Linked DNA regions of Homo sapiens: region 1 is linked to region 2. The links come from fine-mapping of genetic effects on gene expression. A gene starts in region 2. The other region holds a variant in brackets. All regions are shown on one strand. Distances are between the middles of the regions.

What was found. PIP is the estimated chance that this variant, and not a neighbour inherited with it, causes the effect.
Region 1: its variant is the best candidate, but not a certain one, in a credible set for the expression of RNF20 in monocytes (TOPMed, PIP 0.75).

Annotation. Positions count from the first base shown.
Region 1 is chr9:101,574,443-101,576,942 of GRCh38, forward strand. The region is part of intron 8 of GRIN3A (glutamate ionotropic receptor NMDA type subunit 3A); the gene reads right to left. Among named protein-coding and RNA genes, the nearest start is that of PPP3R2, 19 kb to the right of the region's middle. The variant A/G (reference allele first, on the strand shown) is at 1,020.
Region 2 is chr9:101,532,617-101,535,647 of GRCh38, forward strand. RNF20 (ring finger protein 20) reads left to right here and starts at 1,237. Exons shown (of 20, transcript NM_019592.7): 1 at 1,237-1,298; 2 at 2,782-2,936. The coding sequence starts at 2,808. It also overlaps a transcript of PGAP4 not described here. RefSeq lists an enhancer at 979-1,108.

The sequences.
Region 1 (2,500 bases), 42 kb after region 2:
ACCACAGGACAAAACTAAATAGAAACACCCTACCAAGCCATTGTGTTTTTGTTCCCATTCATGTAACTGAATTGACTTTTTTCCTGGACTCTTACTTGCCAGGAGAAGGGGACAATCTGGAAGGAGAAGGGGAAAGAGAAGAATAATAAAGTCTTTATGTAAAAGTGGCCATAAACCTTCTTTTCTCCTTTCATTTATGCCCTCTGTAATGTGACTTTGCAGCTTGTACCTATGCTGAATCTGCTTTCCTCCCCGCTTCAGTTAGGAGTGTTCTCACAACTTGTTTTGGGCAACAGAAAGTGGCAGACATATCAGAGTGGCAGTTCCAAGCCTAAACTTTTAAGAAGTCTTGCACATTTCCACTCTCTTGGAACCCTGCTGCTGCAATGTGAACAAGTCCAGAATGGCCTGCTGCATGATGGTAGACCATATGGAGAGAATCCTCAGGCTTCCCAGTTGACTAGCTGAGGCCATCATAGACCAGACAGCCCTTAGCTGCTTTCCCCATCCCCCAAAGTTGGCTACAGACATATGAGCAAACCCAGCCAAATTCAGCCAAGTCTGGCTCAGATCAGCAAACTGCACAGTTGATCCATGAATTAGTAAGCAACTTGCTGTTGTTTAAAACATTAAGTATTGGGATGATTTATCACATAGCAAAGACCAACTTATACATGACCCAAGCCATTGAAACACACACTCCAAACCACCCTGTGGTTCTTTAACATGCCTCATAGTCTAAGTTTTATATAAATGAGCAGAGGGTACCAGAGCTCAGTTTTCTTGTATCCTGGGCTGGGTAAAAGTTCTGTAATGAACCCACTTATAGCTCCATTGGCTTTAGACCTGAGTCAGAGAGGAGATGTAATTTTTCTTCTAGCTTTATAATTCCCTTTAATTTTTTTCTTCAAATCTTTTCCTATTGAATTTGAATAATCTTAAAGTAATCTTGGTTGTGCTGTTATGTAGTTTGTAATTTTTGTGTGTCTTGGGGTGAGAGGAAAGGGAAAACAGGGGTG[A/G]CATGTATTGATTGGGAACCCAGTGAGATGAAAGATAGACCAAAACCTTATGTGAAATCACATGTTGAATAAACCCAGGGCTATATATAAATCATCTCCTGCAATATGTACCTTATTTTCTTTGCATTAAATGAGAAAGGGACAATACCTACTTCCATATCATGGCCCAAAATTTCTCCAAGCATTTCCTCAAACCCATGTTAATAATTCATTCATTTATCTATTTGCTCTTTTATTTGTTCAGTAAATATGGGGCACAGAGGAGGGATGTCAAGTTGTAGCATGCATGAGCATTTGCATAGATATACTTCCAAGAGAAGAGAGGGAGAGCATTCTAATGCCCTACAATGGTTCATAGCAGGGAAAACCTGAGAGTAGAGCATCTACACATTTTCTTCAACTGTCTAGACAGCCACAGTGATAAGGTAAGTAAAGATAGCTGGACTGGTCTTCTCCAGAGCTTTGTATATCTATCTGGTAATATAATATAGAAGAATAAACAAATGCTGGACTTTGTGCCAAATTCTAGTTGCTAGTATCACCAGGCATCTGATATTTGATGTGGGTACCTATGAGTGCAAGGTGACAAATGCTGAGTGTAAGACTCAGTGTCTACTTGGAAAAAATAACCCAAGGCTGGTGTTATACTCCTAGCCTCAGTAACATTTAGGCTTTGCTTTGATTCAAGCCTTCGTCAGTCTTAGAGTGTTACATGACCAGTGAGTGAGCTGTATTTAACACTAAAAATGGGTAAAATAGGCTTCCCTGGAGCAATTATGTAACACTGAGGTTCAATACTCCACTGGACTATTCCAAAGAGACATGACGGCTATGGTACGCCAAACACTCATTGTGTTTGACAGGTTGCTAATGTTGGGTTGTATAGAGGTAGGCACAGGAAATGTGAGCCCAAGCTAAACCATGAACACCTGTTCTCCTTAGATCCTCAAAATAAGGGGTTCAGGAAGGGAATCTGCCAAGAAAACTGGGTAAGTTGCATCAAAAGACACAAATGGTTTTCAATTTATGTGAGAAAGATGTGAATATGAATCATATCACAGTTGGAGATGGGATCATTGGGCTTCCTGTTTCTATTATAGCTGGAAAACAAATATTTTTTCATTGTAAGATGATACATTTGCTGCTATGTCTTCTTGTGTTACTGTTATTAAAAATTTATGTTAAAAATAGAAAAAATAGATGTAACATGTCATGGAACAGCTGTGACTGGACTAGTATACAGCTTGTCACTAACACACTTGCAATATGATGCAGGAATACCACAGACTGAGAGGGGAGGGGAGAGTGCTCATTGACTGGAAAGAGATACTTCAAGAGATAAAGGAAATGATTCCAACAAGCTAGATGGAGACTGCATAGAAGGGGACTGCAGCAGTCCCAGAAAAGATACAAACAAAAAGAATCCTGTTTTCCATCCCTTTTTCTTCTGTTATGATGAGAGGTGTGCCCTCATCTGAGGC
Region 2 (3,031 bases):
ATGAGAGAATGAGTGTCATTGTCTCATACAATGCTTTTCGGCAGGTGTGTCCCCACTCACATGTTCTCAGGCTCCCACTTCACGGAATGAAATGTGAAGTCCACTTGGGGCCAGTTAATTCTTTCCAAGATAGTCAAGGTGTTCCACTGCCAGGCACCAGGAACACTTGTTTCCCTGGTGTTGACCATCTTACTTCATTTACAGGTAAGCCCTAGCAGGTACAGGGACAAAAGTCTTCACACTAACAGAAATCCAGTGTAGATTAGCTTCTTTTTTTCCCAAGATGCCTAAATTCTATTTTTTAAAAAAGATATAGCGATCATTCTTCCATTTCTAGACCCTTAGCTGACGTCATTAGGTAGTTTATCATAGTTCTGCGAGACATACAGCTTTTCATTAATAGGTTAGATTAATTACCGTCCTATCATTAAAACGCATTTAGTTTAACTGAATGGAAAATAGCAGTTTGTCATAAACTTAAAAAAAAAAATCAATGCTTAATTAGCTTAAAATAGACTAGTACTGAGATCAGAGACTGATTGGCGTTTATCTTTTCCCTGGACAATTTCTTGTTCCCAAAAAAGCACAAGGGCAGTAGTTGTCACTCCTGCTTACGCATTAGAATCTAGTGGATGGAAATGCGGGGTTTGGGGGGAGGAGATGAGGGGAACGCTTTTTTAAAAAAGCTTTTGTCCAGGCCAAGTGATTCTAATGTGTAGACAGGGCAGAATACCGCTCCCTGTGCGGGGGAAAAAATCCCCAACATCTGAAATTCCTCAAATCCCTCAGATTCTCTCCAGAACTCTTCATTTCAGCACGTAGGGGTACCAACGAACAATTTTCTGAGGTGTCTGAGGCTAGTCATGTCCCCGGAGATTGACGGGACCGTCAGCCAATCGGCCGTCTGAACGAGTGATGGCAACCCCAATGACAAGCAACAGAATGAGGAACTTTATCCCCGCAGAAAGACCAGATCGCAGTAGCAAAGGTCAACAAGTCAACAAAAGCCAAGGGCTCTCCGTCAGGCATCAGCGAGGCCCGAGTACTCTTAGAGGTCGTAGCCAGGAGAGGGTCCCGCGCTTGCCCAGCGTTGCTAGGGAGGCGGCGCTTGCTCAAGCTTCTCGTGCCCTCTCCGTACGTCACTTCCGCCCGGCGGGGTCTCATAGTCCTATGGGCTGGGTTGAAGCCACTTCCTTTTTTCTTTCCCTTTTTCCTCTCCGTGGCCCCGCCTCCCGGAAGTTCTGCCTTGTCTCCGCCGCGGGTCAGGGGTGAGAGCTGGAATCTCTGCACGGGCCTTGGTGAGTAACTGCTGCGAGTTCTGTTCCCGCGCGGCGCCAGTTCAAAGAACTTAGGTTAGATCACGCTTAGGGCCCAACAGGACTGTGCCAGGCCTCAGGAGTCTCCACCCTCTCCAGTTTTGGGGCCGTCAGTCTCCTGGGCCTGCAATTATCCACGCTGAGGCTGAGGTCTTTGGCTTTTAGCGAGTTGGATTGCAGCCTTGTTCTGCTTCTGTGTCTTCTCTCTCCAGGCGAGGTCCTACTGAGGTTGTTGCCAGCGATAGTCCTCTCCTGGAGCTTGAATTGGAAGCAGAGTAGTCTTGTTAGTCTCGGTGATGGCTGCGTTGTTTCCTGAAGTAGCCAAAGTGCTTTAGCATCCATTCCGCCTCCTTTGAGCACCCTGGGAGGTAGGCAGGGCAGACGAAAAATATATTCGTTAATATTGTGCAGTTGAGGAAACTGAAGCTCTTGGCGAATTCACTGTTTCAAAGCAACACGGCCTCTAACAGGCAGAACTGAAATTCGCACCCAGGTCTAACTAACGTAGGGTTGCATAAAACAGTGGAGAGAGCGTTTGGAAATAGGGAAAACACTGCAAACGTTAAAGAAGAGCTGGGGTTTCTGAGTGCTTACTTTGTGTTCGGCTTTGTGCCAAATTCTTTCTATAATTATATCATCCATTTTATTTTATAATAAGCATAGGAAGTATATACTGTGGTTATTTATTCCTGGGTTAGGAAACTGAGGCTTAGAGATGATAACTGACTTGTCTAGTACTAATGACTTTAGTAGGCATTTCACAGATCTCTTTCAGCTCTGTGATTCTTTCAACACTGTAGTATTAACTTCTGGCATAATCAAACTGCCCTTTTCTGATTTTGGCATTACAGGAAGAGAGATTCCAGAACTTTATTTTTGGTCTCTTCACCCTTTGCCCATTGTCTCATTTCTTATCACCATTCTTATCACCATCCTATTTAGAAATTTATAGTCATGTAAATTTAGCCTTGACTTTCTTTTTTTTTTTTTTTTGAGACGGAGTCCCGCTCTGTTGCCCAGGCTGGAGTGCTGTGGTGCGATCTCGGCTCACTGCAAGCTCCGCCTCCCGGGTTCAAGTGATTCTCCTGCCTTAGCCTCCCGAGTAGCTGGGACTACCGGCGCCCGCCACCACGCCTGGCTAATTTTTTGTATTTTTAGTAGAGACGGGGTTTCACCGTGTTAGGCAGGATGGTCTCGATCTTCTGACCTCTTGATCCGCCCGCCTCGGCCTCCCAAAGTGCTGGGATTACAGACATGAGCCACCGCGCCCGGCCCGCCTTGACTTTTACTCTACAATTTAATTTTTTTTTTTTTTCCTCAAAGAGAAATATGGAGATGGTTGTGGAATTAATGGATCCAGGTTAAAGGGTTGGCCAGAAAAGTTGCTAGTTTTTACTCTATTGTTTTACTCTATTGTTGCTTTGCTTACATATATTATGTCAGTTTCTGCCTTTTTTTCTATCAGGAAAACGACTGTCTTCTTCTGCCAAAATGTCAGGAATTGGAAATAAAAGAGCAGCTGGAGAACCTGGCACCTCCATGCCTCCTGAGAAGAAGGCAGCTGTTGAAGATTCAGGGACCACAGTGGAAACAATTAAGCTAGGAGGTGTCTCTTCAACGGTATGAGGAAACAGTGCCATGAAAGTGTGCTTGTCTTCTGTCAGTTGCAACTTGAAACTAAAAATTCATGGAAGCTTTCTGGAGTATGGGGAAGC